Regions from separate parts of the Homo sapiens genome. Here all the other regions are reported to be linked to region 1. The links are microRNA targets in miRTarBase. Many come from high-throughput screens and were not tested one by one. Region 1 holds a microRNA gene; each other region holds the end of a gene's coding sequence.
The links. Region 1 holds the annotated microRNA hsa-miR-7162-3p (UCUGAGGUGGAACAGCAGC, at 2,619-2,637, opposite strand). A microRNA usually pairs through its seed, bases 2 to 8, with sites in the 3' UTR of a target mRNA and lowers its output. Matches are read on the target gene's strand: a 7mer-m8 pairs with bases 2 to 8, a 7mer-A1 pairs with bases 2 to 7 and ends in A, and an 8mer does both.

Region 2: miRTarBase lists WHAMM as a target of hsa-miR-7162-3p. Seed matches in the 3' UTR shown: 7mer-A1 at 670-676.
Region 3: the mRNA of SYT1 is a reported target of hsa-miR-7162-3p. Seed matches in the 3' UTR shown: 7mer-m8 at 3,369-3,375.
Region 4: the mRNA of EMILIN2 is a reported target of hsa-miR-7162-3p. Seed matches in the 3' UTR shown: 7mer-m8 at 1,004-1,010.

Annotation. Positions count from the first base shown.
Region 1 is chr10:30,365,979-30,370,128 of GRCh38, forward strand. It overlaps MIR7162 (microRNA 7162), which reads right to left and starts at 2,687; the gene lies at 2,619-2,687. It also overlaps the pseudogene GOLGA2P6 and the pseudogene RN7SL241P.
Region 2 is chr15:82,833,318-82,837,317 of GRCh38, forward strand. WHAMM (WASP homolog associated with actin, golgi membranes and microtubules) reads left to right here. Exons shown (of 10, transcript NM_001080435.3): 10 at 1-2,791. The coding sequence ends at 219. It also overlaps a transcript of HOMER2 not described here. Among named protein-coding and RNA genes, the nearest start is that of WHAMM, 26 kb to the left of the region's middle. RefSeq lists an enhancer at 1-168.
Region 3 is chr12:79,448,561-79,452,560 of GRCh38, reverse strand. SYT1 (synaptotagmin 1) reads right to left here. Exons shown (of 11, transcript NM_005639.3): 11 at 553-3,643. The coding sequence ends at 3,437. Among named protein-coding and RNA genes, the nearest start is that of MIR1252, 31 kb to the right of the region's middle.
Region 4 is chr18:2,912,645-2,916,644 of GRCh38, reverse strand. EMILIN2 (elastin microfibril interfacer 2) reads right to left here. Exons shown (of 8, transcript NM_032048.3): 8 at 642-3,578. The coding sequence ends at 3,241. Among named protein-coding and RNA genes, the nearest start is that of LPIN2-AS2, 52 kb to the left of the region's middle.

The DNA.
Region 1 (4,150 bases):
CACCTCTGCCTTCATCCTCACTGTGTAACCCTGAGCCAGCCCCTCCCCAGAGGGGAATGAGCTGCTGTTCTTTATCTTTACTTTCAAGAACCAAGATCTTGCTATATTGCCCAGGCACAGTCCCACTACCAGTCGGTGCAGGAGTTCTGACCTACTCCCTTTCTGACCTGGGCCAGTTCACCCATCCTTAGGCAACCTGTTGGCCCCCTAGCCCAGGAGGTCACCATATTGATGCCAAACTTAGTGCAGACACCCGGTCAGCATAATGACCAGCTGTTCTAAAGGTCTCTTCCAACTCCTCAATCCTACGCTGCTAACAGTCCCCCTTTCCTTCTGGGGCTCTCTCCTCCTCCTCTGAGAGATCTCCTGTACCTTGCCTAGGGAGTGCCATGAGGCTCAACTGGGCCTGTAGCTGCTGGTTCTGCTGGCTGGTACCTTCCAGGTGCTCCTAAGGGGCCAGGAAAGAGAGTGAGAAGGCACGGAGGTTGCCAGGTCATCCCCCTCAAGGCCCCGTCCTCAGCAATTCCCTCCCCTGGGTCTCCTGCAACTTTTGGTGGGCCATCTCTGCCACCACTTTGCCCCAAGCTTCCTGCTGCTGCAGCTGGTCCATGAGCTGGGTCTGCAGCAGTAACTGCCTGTGCTGCGCCTCCTTCTCAGAGGTCAGCTGCTGATAGGCAGCCACGTACTGCTGCAGGTGACCCAGGGACTGGTGTCCCTGCTGCTGCAGACTCTGAGCCTCTTGGCTCTTCAGCTTCACCTGCAGGAAGACCCTGGGCATGAGGGCACATGGTGGCTGGCTTCCAGATTCTGGGCCCATTAATAGGGTATTGAGGGCACTGTGGGGCTCTGTTGCCCGCCCAGGCCCCTGGCCCCTTGCTCCAGGCCTAAGTGACTGCCTCCCTTTCCTAGAACCCCATGCCTTCTTCCCCAGCCTCAAATCTTACACCTTTCTTCCCACCATTTAAACTGTAGGCCACAGGCTGGTGGAAAAGCAGAGGGAGCCAACCACCATCTGCTAAGTGTGCTATATGACTAATACTTTCCATGTATTATCTCATTTAATCCTCAGCACCTCTGCAAGGAAAATGCTAACTTCCTTTTGAAGTTAAAGGAACAGAGACTTAGAGATGCAAAGTGGTTGAATGGCGACCAGTGGAACTGAGGCTGGAATCTAGTTTGAATCTAAGGAGACTTTTTTGTTTTTGTTTTGTTTTGTTTCGTTTTGCGACAGAGTGTCACTCTGTGGCCCAGACTAGAGTGCAGTGGTGCAATGTCAGCTCACTGCAACCTCCACCTCCCAGGCTCAAGCGATTCTCATGCCTCAACTTCCTGAGTAGTTGGGATTACAGGCATGCGCCACCATGCCCGGCTAGTGTGTGTGTGTGTGTGTGTGTGTGTGTGTGTGTGTGTGTGTGTGTGTGTGTGTGTGATATTGGTAGAGATGAGGTTTTGCCATGTTATCCAGACTGGTCTCAAACTCCAGACCCCAAGTGATTCTCCTGCCTCAGCCTCCCAAAGTGCTGGGATTACAGGCGTGAGCCACCATGCCTGACATAAGGAGCCTCTTATACCACGACTCCTCCCCTGTGATTGGGGGGCTCCATGCCTCTAGCTGGGATGATGATGTCCACACCTGGGAGGAGCCCAGGGCTACCCACCTCTAAAAGTCAGAGGGCAGGAAGCAAGAAACAGTCACAGGACTGCCCTGGAGGGAGCTGGGGTCACCTGCCCCCGGGCTGGAGCTGCTTTTGGCCTCACACCTCCCCTCCCCAGAGGCTGGTGCTCACCTCCCAGCCCTTCTTGGATGGGCAGAGGTTACAGTCTCCTTCAGCTTGCCCAGCTTCTCCTGCAGCTCCTTTACTTGCTGCTCCAACTGTAGTGCACTCTTATTCTCGTTGTTCTGGACAGAGAGAAGCAATCAGTGGCCACCCACTGCAGCTGGAGACCCCAGAACTTGGTGTCTGCCTCCCATGGCACCAGGAAGGGTGGAGGCAGGTTAGAAAAATTATCCCCTCTCTCCCACAGCCATCAGAGCAGGGCTCTGGCTCACAGGTGCCTTTAGAAGTACCATTTCACGTGAGGGCTACACTGCCCCATCTTACAGGTGGGGAATCAAAGGCCTGGAGGGCAAGGGAGGAGGGCAGGCTCACGAGGCGGGGCAACGCACCAGCTCCTCTAAGCCGCTCTGTGGCCCAGCCAGCTGCTAGTCGAGCTCATGGTTCTGAGAGAGCACGTGGTTGATGGTGGTGTGGTTCCGCAGGGCCTGCATGCACGTCTCTGCCTGCTCCTCCCAGAGCTTGGCTTTCCGCCCCAGCTCGAGCAGCCTGTCCTCCTGCTCCGCAGCCTCTCCTCCCACTCCCGTAGCCTCTCCTCCCGCTCCCGCAGACTCTCCTCCCGCTCCCGCAGACTCTCCTCCCGCTCTCCCAGCCTCTCCTACTCCTGCAGCTTCTCCTCCAGCTCCTGCAGCCTCTCCTGCTCCCGCAGCGTCTCCCGTTCCAGCAGCCTCTCCTCCTGCTCCCAGTTCAGGTGACTCAAGCCTTGATTGTTTTGCACCTGAGCTTGGAGCTGTCCTGCCAGACTCTCCTGCTCCTTCCTCGGGTGCTCGGCCTCAGCTTGTAGCTGCTGTTCCACCTCAGAGGGCCCTGCTGGGGGCTCCAGGGGCAGGGGTTCAGCTGAGAAAGGAAGCAGACAACAAGGGCCTCTGGGTTAACAAAACAAAACAAAACAAAACAACAAATAAAAGCCCTTCTCTTGGTGCACAGATCCTCTCAGGCTCCCCAAACTTGGCCTCACTGCTAACGATTCCTCGCTCTCGGATGGTAGCCAATCTTCCAAGCCACTTTCAGATAGAGAGCACTGTGGGTGGCTGACAATGAGCACTCCTCCCTCTTTGTTGATGGCGACACTGAGGTTCATGGAGATTATAAGACTTGCCGTCTCCTGGCACAGACCTCTTTCCCTCTGCCTCAAAGCCCTTCCATCTACCCACCTCCCTGGGGCATTCTAAGCCATCCCCACAGCCCTCTGATGCCAGTCCTGCTCCCAGGCCATGCCAGCCCCATCTTACCCATCTAGTTTTTGAGTTCGGCCAAGCTCCTCTCCAGCTCCTGTACCCGATGCCTGTCATGCTTCTTCTCCTCCTTCCATGTGCAAACCTGCCCAAAGCACGGGGGACAGGGCCCTGGAGAGAGGGGCTGGTGGTTGGACAGGCTACCAACTCCCTCTCTGCCTCCACCTCTACAAAGCCCAGACCCATGACCACCTCTGGCTGTACTATTCCCATTTTACAGATGGCCAGAAAGATCCAGTGACCTATCTAAAGTGGGGGGCTTAAGGGTCAGGTCTCACCTCCTCTGACATTTTCCATACCCTCTGCTGCCACCGGGCCCTCTCTCCTTTTAGATGTTGAGTATATTCATCTGTCTCTAGCTGGACTTGTTCCAACATCTGCAAGAATGGGCACAGAAGTTAGGAAAGGCTGTCACTGGTCCTCACCTGCTCCTGGCCACCTGGCGTCATCTTCCTCCCACATCCCTCCCTCTACAAAGCTTCACCTGTGTCACGTGTGCTTCCAGCTGTGCCCGAGCCTTTATGGACTGCCATAACTGCCGCTTGAGGACTGCTTCACAGCGGCTCGAGGACTGTATGGTGAAGAGTGAGAAGTTTCGATCTGGGGAGCCTGGGCCGTTCCACACAGTGCCCCTTAAAAGGGCTAGGGTTAGGCTCAATATACAACTTGGTCAGTAAAGGTCAAGGCATTTCTAAGCCTGTGGTCTGGTTTTTAAAAGAACTCAGTAAAGTTGGAAGGGACAGGGAAAAAGATCGAATTTACAGCTGGCTAACAGAGGCCCAGAGAGATCAGATAATATTGCTGTTGTTATTACTGTTATTACTACCACTGTTTGAATGTTTATTGAGTGCTTCGCCAGTTACCATGCTAACGATCCCACTGAATCCTCATAACCACCATATGAGACAGTTACTATGATTACCTCTATTATTAGTATTAGAGTTACTATTAGAGTATTAGAGTTTCTATTATTAGTATTAGAGGTTAAGTGCTTGCCTAAGGTCACTTAGACAGAGCTGGGATTTGAATACCCAGGTCTATCCTATTCTCTAAGCCCATTTTTCTTGCTGGGGGTTGGGG
Region 2 (4,000 bases), not on the chromosome of region 1:
TCAATCAATGAGCACATTCTGGCTGCCATAAGGCAAGGGGTCAAACTGAAGAAAGTTCACCCTGATCTTGGCCCAAACCCCAGCAGCAAACCAACCAGCAACAGACGCACCAGTGACCTTGAGAGGAGCATCAAGGCTGCGCTCCAGAGAATCAAGAGGGTGTCTGCTGACTCTGAGGAGGACAGTGATGAGCAGGACCCTGGCCAGTGGGATGGTTAGGCTCAAGTTTGACAAAGGCACCTGCCACAGTAGGCTTGAATAAAGTGGGTGAGTCTTAGACCTATCGAAAAGCATACTAACAGGGTGCTGATAGATGGGCCACATAACACCCCGGAAGATCAGCAGGGCCTTGTGTAGGCTGCTGCAGCATTTTTTTTTTTTTTCTTTTTTGAGATGGAGTCTCACTCTGTCGCCCAGGCTGGGGTGCAGTGGCGCCATCTCGGCTCACCGCAAGCTCCGCTTCCCAGGCTGGGGTGCAGTGGTGCGATCTTGGCTCACTGCAAGCTCCGCCTCCTGGGTTCACGCCATTCTCCTGCCTCAGCCTCCCGAGTAGCTGGGACTACAGGCGCCACCACCTTGCCCAACTAATTTTTTGTATTTTTTAGTAGAGACGAGGTTTCACCGTGTTAGCCAGGATGGTCTCGATCTTCTGACCTCGTGATCCGCCTGCCTCAGACTCCCAAAGTGCTGGGATTACAGGTGTGAGCCACCACGCCCAGCCTTTTTTTTTTCTTTCTTTTGAGACAGAATCTCTCTGTCATCCAGGCTAGAGTGCAGTGGCACGATCTTGGCTTACTGCAACCTCCACCTCCCAGGTTCAAGCAATTCTCTGTCTCAGCCTCCCGAGTAGCTGGGATTACAGGCATGCACCACCACGCCTGGCTAATTTTTGTATATTTAAGTAGAGACAAGGTTTCGCTATGTTGGCCAGGCTGGTCTTGAACTCCTGACCTCGTGATCCACCTGCCTTGGCCACCCAAAGTGTTGGGATTATAGGCATGAGCCACCGTGCCTGGCTGATGCTGGAGCTTTTATGTGACATGGTGACTCTTAAAACTGGGGAGGGACGTAGAGATGAGAGTTTCACACACCAGCCCATAGGTGGGATGTCAAGACCCATCGGAAGTGTCGCTGGCCTAAGAGAAGAGCACTTATTTCTCACCATGGCTGATCTAGAATTGTTCCCTGATTCTGAAAGAAGTTTACACTACACTGGTAAGCAGTACTATTAGACTACTGACTGTGGCCTTCTGTGCATATGGAATAATGATTTCTCAGATTTGTAGGCTTGAATGTGAATGTTATTTTATCAGTAATCAGAATAAATTGCTTATATTCAGGAGTTATTTTAAATATTTAAATGAAATTTATTTTAGGCACCAAGCACTACATAAACTCATAATAACTATTTGCAATGCATTAGCATCACTCACGGGGTAATGAAAACATACCTTAGCTGCTGTAAAAGCAAAGTCTTCCGTGTCCGGGTGGGCTGAAAGTTTTTAATAAAATTTTAGCTAAACATTTGTTTAAGTGAATACTAAGGATGGAGCAATAGTGTTATTTTCCTCAGGAACTGAAGTCTCATGCTGAAGTATTTTCTCCTTAAAATTAAATTTTTAAAATCAGGGAAGGGGAAGGGACTGATGCAAAGCAGTCCGTTCATTTCTCAGACTGCGAGCATCCCTACTAACCTCATCACCCTCACTCTGGTGATATTACTCCTGGGTCTCCACAGAACAAAAGGAACGCACCTCGTTTACAAAGAAAGTCCTGATTGATATAGAACAGAAATCTTCCTACTTCAGTTTTTTTGTTTTTTTTTTTGAGACAGAGTCTTGCTCTGTCAACCAGGCTGGAGTGCGGTGGCACGATCTCAGCTCACTGCAACCTCTGCCTCCTGGGTTCAAGTGATTCTCCTGCCTCAGCCTCTCGAGTAGCTGGGACTACAGGCGTGTGCCACCACACCCAGCTAATTTTTATATTTTTAGTAGAGATGGGGTTTCACCATGTTGGCAGGATGGTCTCGATCTCTTGACCTCGTGATCCTCCCACCTTGGCCTCCCAAATGCTGGGGGTTACAGGCGTGAGCCACCACACCTGGCCTTCCAGTGTCTTAACTAACTGGTACACAGCAGCCTGAGGGGCCTCAGTTGGCACAGCTGGGAGGGGCGTGAGTCCCTTTCAGCAGCTGCAGCCTGGGTCTCCCTCTGTGGCATGGCCACTGCCAGGTTTCCCAGCCACTGCCAGGTTGCCCACGGGTCTGTCATGTGTGCTACCTTTTCAGAATGCAAATCCAACTCCTGTGTATGAATGAATGTGCCTCACTGTGCTGGCCCAGGCCTGATGGGCCAAGCCCTGACTCTGCACTGGCCCCTGTACCTGCCGCTCCCACCCAGGTTCCCAGGGGTGTTCCAGTGGGGGACGCAACCTGCGGGCTACTCGCTGGGCATCAGGTCCAGATCCCAGAGACAGGTCCAGTGGCTGTGGCCCAGGCCTCCTTCCCCACCACAGACAGGCCAGGCTCAGCATCAAACTTCCTAGGGAAAGAATTTGGAATTGAAAAAGTAGCAAAATCACAACTTTGTGGGACTTTTCTTATGCATATTTTGCAGTTTGGCATTGTTTGTAATTACGTATTTATAATTTCAGTATTTTGAGATACCAGCGAGCTTAATCAGGCTAAAATAATTCTCAGAATTTGCTTTCTAAGGGCTGCCAAACACAAGAGGCCTTTGAAAAAAGGATCCTTTTCAAAAGAACGTTCTCACAATAAAAATTCCTGGCCCAATTGTGTCTTCTGTGCATCAACGCTTCCTTTCCTCCTCTGGAACCTTCTCTCCTTCCTTTCTCCCTTTTCCTGCTTTTTCCAGCCAAGCCTTGAAGTCAATCCAGACTTTGGCTTCAGGGAATTCAGAGCCAAGGAAGTGGGGACAAGTGTCTCCTATTGCCCAGCTTCAGAGCTCTCCAGTCGGCCTCCAAAGCACTGCCAGTCTTCACCTCTCCCTGGCTTTCCAGCCCACACAGGAAGGGCAGCCCCTCAGCCTGGCAGACAAAACCCTCAGAGACTTGGTTGCCTCCCCTGGGCAGCCCCTGCCCCTGCCACAGGTTTTAGTCCAGCAATACCATGCTGCTTCCTGCCTGCCCCCAAAGGGCCTGCTCTCTTAAGTGCCTGGAATTCTCCCTGCACCCTTCATGTCCTGGCAAACCCATGCCCATCCTTAGGTCTCAACCCCACAGCCTTTTCCGCCAGGTCTTCTCTGACCTCTCTCTCCTATACAGCCATGTACTTTGTCTTGGGAGTCTGGTACAAAGGAGGACTGGCATCTGCTCCTAGTACAGCCAATCCTATGGATTGTCCTGGAGTGAAAAGCATTGAGCTAGGCCAGTCAGACTTGTGTATTCATCTGTTCGTCCATTCTCTCTTCAGAATTTGAACTAGGGAATCAGGCAGGTGGTAACGGCAGCCAGAATGAGGAGGTTATTGGTTAAAGGCCACATGGCATGTGAAACCCACGTAGTTGAGTGGATTTATGGGGCAGAGGCTCTCAGACCATAGGGTGTGTAAAAGCACATGAGAGTGCATTGGTTTTCTATTGCTGCCATAACAAATCACCACAAAAGTAGCTGCTTAAAAGACAAATTTCTTATCTTACAGTTCCATAGTCAGAAGTCTGACATGGGTCTCACTGGGCTAAAATCAAGGTGTTGACAGGGCTGTGTTCTCTTCTAAAGGCTCCGGGGAGAAGCCATTTCCTTGCCCTTTCTGGTTTCTAGAGGTTGCCCCTGTTCCTTGGCTTGTGGCCCCTTCCTCCACCTTCAGTGCCAGCAGCATCGTATCTGACCCTTCTTCCATCATCACATCTCTTTCTGACCCAAGGAAAGGTTCTCTGCTGCTGCTGAGAACTTGTGTGATTAGTCTGGGCCCACCCGGATAATCCAGGATCATCTCTCCATCTGAAGGGCCCTTTTGCCAACTATGGTAACATAGCCACAGGTT
Region 3 (4,000 bases), not on the chromosome of region 1:
TAAGCCCACATCACAGTGCATTGGGATAGCGTATTTACATCAGCCTGAAACTGTGGGCTTCAGCGTCCAGTACAGTAGGCACTTGATAAATGTTAAATTTAGTGGAGGAAAAGTATTTACTTGTTTCCCATAGCGATCGTAGTAGGCATAGAATTTAATGTGTCATACTGTCCTCTGAAACTGGGGTTTAAATAGTTTTGTTTTCCGTCCCATTCTGGAGAAGCTGTGTGACTTGGGTTCTGGAGTGAAAACCCTGAAGGACACATGCTGGGCAAAGTGAAAAGCCTCAGAGTACGCCAGATGAACTGATGACACACAGGAATAGAGAAACACATGTTGAGAATGACACTGCCCAGGAACACCACGCGGTCATGGCCAAATGCTCCCGGGTGTTGTTTTCCCTCTAGCTATTCTGTACTCAGATGTGACTCAGATGCTGGCATTCAGTGCAGTTTTGTTTAGCTGCTGCTGCTTCCAGGAGTCCCCCAAAGTCAATAGGCCATTGGCTTACCACCAGAGTCAGGCAAGGAAAAGAGTGGGAACGCAGCAACATCAACAGGAAATAAAACATTTTTATTGAATATCTGTGTAATATGTTAAGTCATTTTTAACAACAATCAGAAAACTACTGTGGAATTCACTACACAAAGTGAAACAAAATTTAAATCACCTCATCAAAAATGAAGGTAAAATACAGCTGAAATAGTTGGCTCGCAGGCCACGAGCCATATGGCAGAGGAAAACACCCCAACATTTCTACAAGATACAGGGAAAACCCACACATAGAAACACTCAAGCAGGCAGTAAATATACACAAAGGCAACTAGGATCTTTCTAGAGCATCAGATTCTAATACTTTACACAGCTTTGTCAGAAGGGTACATGTGGCTTATTTGAGGATGAATCTTGGTCATAAAGCAGGTTCCATCACTGACTTGTGAAAGAGTGAAAGATGGCATAGTACCAACTAATTCTATGGTGACAATCCCATGTCTGGCAGTGTTGCAAGAGAATGCATTAGTGGTATTTTAATGCAAGAAATAATGTCTATTCAGCAGCTTGAACCTGCTTGTTTGAAAGTGTGGTTTCATTGTGAACAACTTAAAGCTGAATACAGTGAAATTAAATGTCATTTGTGGTATTTAAATACTTTTTAAAAGCCAGTCAACTCCCTCTCTTTGGTAGGGTTTGGCCCTTTAAATTGGAAAGAGTCTTGTTTGAATTTTCTGTTCAAACCATTATTTAATTTCACATTCTGACTTGTGTATATTTTCTATTACCTATGTTTTTTAAGAAGTACGGACCATCGGCAGACGGTTATTTTCCTTTTATCCTTTATGTCTATGCCAATTATAAAGCGTTTGCTATGTCTGGCCTAAAAGGCAAAAGAGCTTGCCCCTTCTTTGATAAGGAAACAGTAACGACAGGAATTCCAGTTTTACTGGGAAACAGCCAACCCCATGTTCAAAGCCTACCATCAGCCCTTTTTGAATTCTCTTTAGTTTTTGAAAAGACGTGGTGTGATATCCTGAAGACTGAACATGAGGCCAATGCTTAGTTTTCCTCCATTTTGTTTTGATATTTGTGAAGACAAACTTTCATTTCAGAGCATCACTACTGTCTTGTGGCCTGGAAATTAAAATGGATCACAGAAGTGAATGGGACAAAAGGCTAGATGCAGTGTGGGATAATAGGCTGCCCTTCCACGAAATGGTTGTCTACCATAGTGGGGAAAAATATGGAATATTGCACAGTGCTTGACAAAATGCTGTGTTCCACCCCATTCTATGTATCTTCCTTGTCCTATGCATAGCTTTTCAGTTCTGAATTGGTCCTTTGTAATGAGAACTGTTTGTGCTACACACACCTTGGGCAGTGCAGTAGAAGGGAATGGCAGTATTGTTACAATATCACTACGGAATAAATTGAGTGCTATCCACTGAGGAAACTACGGGTCTAAGCACACACGGCAGTCACAGTGTTACACAGAGCAGTCCTTTAAGACTCTTATGGAATGACTAGTAGCTTCATAATAGTGTCATTTACTACATAATAACATTGAAAACGTTTAAAAACTCCTCCTAAATCAAGCATCTAGTATACATAAGAGGTTGCTTCAGTTTTCTAGAACTTGTTCTTGGTTTGTTTCACCTTTTTTTAAAGGACAAATTAAAACTTAAGTAAAAAGAGCATATAAAAAGATCACTAGCTGTCTGTTTTGGCTTAATTGAAGTGCATTCAGAACTATGGCTAATTGTTGTTGGTTTTTGTTTTTGTTTTTCTTTCATCTTTTGATGGGATTACAATACTGTCTGTTTACCACAAAGTAATTTTGTGTAATAAGCACAGATTGTTGTGTTAAAAATATCCTGCATTCCTTCTAACCTGGTTTTATATAATAAAATATTTTGTTACAAACTCTAATGTGCAAACCTTTTGGAATTATTGTAGGTGTGAAATCTGGAACAGAATTCACAGGATGTACATTTTGTATAAAGGTGATAATGGAGAGCTACTTTTTTCTTTTTAAATAGTCAGGCAATATTTCATAAATGTTGACTTCTCCCCTTAGCTTCTTCTCCCCCATCCCCAAACAAATGTGCACACACACACACACACACACACACACACACACACGGAACACCTTGTTGTTATTCTATATGCAGTAATATGAAATCATTGACTCCTGTTCAGTTGCTTCCTCAAATATAAGAGTGAAGCCATTATTTTAGCTTTGTAAATATGTACAGACAGGTGCTATTCTGTTTTGTGGCTATGCTTCCTTGAGGTCAGCCTGGATGCTGCTGCTCAGATCATGCTATTTTGCCTGTGTAGGAATTCTACAAAATTGGATTCACCCACCAAGTATGTGGTGTAAGTTTATCTTGGTACTCAAATGATTCAATAGAAAGCTCAGGTTTAAGTTGTCCTTTAAGATGTCAGTTTAACTGTACTAGTGCCTTACGAGTTGATATTTTTGCTGGAATGCAGACGATACTATATTTACCGTATAATATATTATCAGCTCTCCTATATCTCAGTCAATTTACATAGTTTAAAATAGAACATCTTATTAAAAACATCTAGATATACACAGATTAGGAAACGCTTACAACATACAAATACACAAACTAGAAATAAATCTTTAGCATACTGGTATATACAACAGTGTGATACAATAAATAATTTCATTCATGCTCTATCTACACATCATATTGCTTAAAAGAAGAGTAGATTTGGAGGGCAGTGGTATGATGAAGGACTTAGGGGCTCTCTACATTTAAATTTGTGCAAATTAAAACAGGATTCCAAGTACCACTGAATTGTGTTAGGAATGCATGGCTGGAAAAATGAAAGGACCCATATTACTGAGGTATTTACAGATACTGGCTAAAGAGCACTATATGGGCAAATGCAGAAAGGCTTCTTCTTTCCTTTACTTCTTGACGGCCAGCATGGCATCAACTTCCTCCTCTACCTGCAGGGTGTGCCACTGGGCAATAGGTCGCCTGGGGTTGGCCAGCATGTCTGACCAGTGTCGCAGCTCCGCGCCGGTGCTGTTGTAGCCCACAAAGACTTTGCCGATGGCATCGTTCTTGCCAATCTTGTCATAGTCCAAAACAGTTACCACCACCTGCACTTTCTGAAAGAAGCCATGAAATGAATATGAATCATCTAGCTCTAGAGATAAGGCCCGACTATAAAGCGTCCTTGAGCGCTAAAGAATTGGAAATAGAAGAATCAATCTCCAAGCACTAGGATGAGGATGAAAATGACTTGAATCTTAATACTCAAACGTTAATTTTTATTATATACTTTGCACTAAGTCTTTTACATGAATGAACTCAGTTACTTCTCATAATAGATCCTATTAATATTGCCATTATACAGGTAAGGATGCTTGAAGCTCTGAGAAGTTATATAACCTGTCTGAGGTTGTTTAAGGAATGAGTTGTTTGGTTTTCAGAGCCTATGCTGTGAACCTCCATGCCATGGAGTC
Region 4 (4,000 bases), not on the chromosome of region 1:
CCCTTCCTTAGGGTGGGTATGATTTAGCAGTCAATCCTGATGTTTTCATCACAGAGTCAGAGTGACCTTTGATCAAAACCACATCGCATATATTACTTACATGGTGATGTTTTGTCCTCTCAGATTGCTGGGCCCTTACCAGATGCAGCATATGCTGAACCCTGCATCCCAAAGGCCCTCCACAGGAGCGTGTGTTCAGGATGGAAATGTTTGTTTGCATGACGTGATGGCAACCATGGGTCTTTGGGAATGCAAAAGAAGAGCTCAGGGAAATTGGTTACAAAGGAAATGGTCTTTACCCAGAGCAGCTTTGAGGGCTTCAGGGGAGCAGTGAACTTTGCATACCTGAGCTCTGAGGACGTGCCTGCGTGTGGCTTCTCTCTGTTTTGCCCCGCACCCATTGGAGTTGGCATGTGTCCTTCCATTTTCTTTCCCGTTTATAGGATGGCATAAGGAAAATACACATTTATCTTTAGAAAGGGGCTGTGGTGTGGATTGGATATGTGCAAAGCTGGGTTTCCAAGCTTACAGGCATGAACGAAGTGACTCCAATCACAAATACTCCCTGTCAAGCTGCAAATACATAAACTGTGAGAAAATTAGTCACCTGGGAAAGCTAGATTAACATGCCAACCAGGAAGTAATTTCAAATGCAGTTTAAGGTTTGCATTTATTGACGATACCATTTTGTTTTTAATCGTGTAAATGAGGCCATTTGTTAGTGTTACATGGAGGTTTGGAGGGGATGTCACAGTCCTTCTCTACTTAAGAAGTGTCCTGACCTTTTCTCAGCAACAACTTGATATCAGAAGTTGTGAACTTGGCTGGGCGTGGTGGCTCATACCTGTAATCCCAGCACTTTGGGAGGCCGAGGTGGGCGGATTGGCTGAGCTCAGGAGTTCGCGACCAGCCTGGGCAACACGGTGAAACCCCATCTCTACTAAAATACAAAAAATTAACCGGGCGTGGCGGCATGCACCTGTAGTCCCCGCTACTCGGGAGGCTGAGGTAGGAGAATTGCTTGAACCCGGGAGGCGGAGGTTGCAGTGAGCTGAGATCGCGCTACTGCACTCCAGCCTGGGCGACAGAGTAGGACTGTCTCCCCCCAAAAAAAAAAAAAAGTTGTGAACTTGTGCCTGATTCTGTCTCAGGGTTTGGTATGCCTCTGACTGACTCGCAGGCACTACTTCAGGGGTGATGACTTCTTGAAGGGCTGCTTCGAACCCCACAGCCTTAAGCTCAGCTGACCTTGTTGTTCTACTACCTGTACAAAAAGACAGCCTTTCCCTTTCTAAAGATGTCTCCTAAGTGGGCCAGGATCCACCTGTCATCCAGCTTTATCTCAAAGTAGAGGCACGCTCCAGCCATAATGAGGCATATTCTGTTTTGCCTGTCTTGAATACACAGAGCTGAGATTCACCATTGTTGGTGAGTAGAGATGCACTGAGAGGAGGACTGGGTTTTACCCGATGTTCCAGACCCATCTACGGAGTAGGGAAAGCAGCAGGTAGTCATCACCCACCTTTTGCCTGGGCCCTGCCCCTGCAGCTCTTGAGCACGTCCCCTTGGGCGCCGAGTGCGGTCTTTTCAAAAGGAGCGTGAGAGGAGAGGAGAGGGCGATGGCGCGTGCCCACTGGGTTTTCCTGAAAACACTGCTGCACTGGGGCGCTTTCCATGAGTCATTCCTAGGACAGCCAAGGATACTCTCTGACAGCTCTCTTTAGCCAGTTCCCCAGCTGTTGTAATGGGGTGAGATGCCATTCTCCCTCCCGCTCCTGGACAAAGAGGTCCACATTTTAAATAGTAAAACGGCAAACCTTTAGTTCTTGCTGGTCTTCCTAGCTGTGGCGGGGGGAGTAAATAAGGAACTCTGAAGTGTCCAGTGGCCACCCTGTAAATTCATTTGCAAACAATTCTTAAAGCATTTTTTTTACAGCATAAGAGCATCTTGTGGGCCAAGGAAACTGCAGCTCTTGATTCTACCGTCCAAACCTTTCCCCAGTGGGACTTGATTAACCAGTAGGTGTTACCAACCTGATCCACAGAGACTACCTTGAACTAAGGGTGCTGAGAGGTCTCCGTGGCCACTGGTGACAGATTGATACTCCCGGGCCTCCCCTCAGTGGAGGCGTCTCGCTGTGTGAAGATGCCGTGTTCTCAGATGGGCTCAGCTGTCAGCGTGTGGCCAGCGTTAGGTTGAGCTTCCTGCTGCTTAGAAACCCAAGAGCTCGGCGAGCTGTGTCTGCTGGAGATTGGTGCAGTGAAGCAGCAGGGATCAAGTTAGCCTGGGCAGCTGCTGTGGGATCTGAGTGCAGCATCCCCAGAGGAGCCGCTCCAGCTGCAGATGACATGGGGCCTTGACCTCCGTGCACATCTGGTCCGTCTTCACAAGCCAGAAACAAAACCCAAGTGTATAGCTTGGATGCGGAGGGGTAACAGTTTTGTAGCTGAGATTAATTTTACTCAAGGTTACTTTCTGTAGCCCTTTTTGAAACAAAACATTTCTTCAGTTTGCTTTTTAGCAACAACTCCCGATCTGTAAGGGACCACACTTAAATTAACAAAAGTTAACTGGAAATGGCTTTCCATCTTTATTGACACTCCCTGTCTTTGCACTTAAATTGTACATGCCATTTAAGGAGCCCAACAAGCTTTGGGAACAGTCTCTAACGCATCCCTATTTGCAGCTGGGCGAAGGCCCGCCTGAGCAGGTTAAGTCCCAGGCGGCAATGGTGAGCCAAGCGTGGAACAGCCCAAACTAAAGTCGGGGTCTCTGTGCGGCGGCACGGGCCACTTCGGCACTTCAGTGTTTAAACTTCTGCATGCAGTGTAAAGACAGACAGCTGGCCACAGTGCTGCCCTGCAGTAAAGACCAGCCACCGTGACCGGCTCTCCCCTGCCTCCCTCCTCCCAGCCCACAGTCAGACGGAGCCTCTGTGGCAAGCTCAGGCCCAGTCCAGGGCCCTCAGAGTGTAGATACAGGTGGAGGCCTTTCCAAGTCTTCCAGTTGTCCAGTTAGAGTGGCAGAAAAGTCAGTGGCCATGTTCACCGTGTGCCTCACTCCCTGCAGCCTGGCTGGATGCAGTAAGGCATGGTGGCCTCAACAGCGAGGGAAGGCCTTTATGTTGGGGCCTATGTGGAAACTCTAGCCCCGTGCTTCCATTACATACAAACCGAATATATTAAAGCTTTAGAGTTTTTACAACTATCTATCTTTCCCCTGACATCTCCCCAGCCACCTTAGAGGTGGGAAAGGAAAGGATATAAGAAAACCCCACTAAATGTGGAGTACATTTCATCAAAGTCTGTGTGAGCCAGCTTGCCCCCAGTCACCACGACGTTGACTGCATCTCCCGCCTTCAGGTGCACGATGAGGTGGAATGCCCCCGGGCCCCCGCAGGTATGCAAAGCTCCTGGAGGGCGGTGGTATTCCAGGAACTCTCTCCTGTACCCAGCGGTATGCAGCTGGGCCACGCTGGCGTTGGAGACCGACAGCACTGCTTCCACGTAGGCGTCTCTCTCGGGGGTGAGGGTGGCCGTGATCAGGTAGCGCCCATCATAAGGAGCCGTGAAGACCCCTGCGGGGAGAAAGGCAAACCCTGTGCTCACCTGCTGTCGTCACAGCCCTTGCCATGGTAGTAAGTGGCCCCCCAGTGATTAACCTGGGCCTGGGAGACCAGCCATCTCTGTCTTCCCATGGTAGCTGGCTGCCTGCCTCAGCTGCTTTTTATGCTCATCCCCTACAGCCTACCCGTGATGCAGAGGCCACCTTAGCCCATACCACTTTTTGCCATGGGCCTAAGAATGCCTCTTGGAGGCATTCCTTATTGGAAGCACCTAAAGGCTAAAGTCAGCCTCAAAGCTTGGCTGCTGGGCAGAATACCCGGGAGGCAGGGCCAATAAAAACGAAGCTTGCCACCAACCCAGGGAGAGGCAGACATGGCACCTTGTAACCCCAGGGGCCATGCCAGGCTCCTCGTGGAAGAGGCCCATTCTCCCC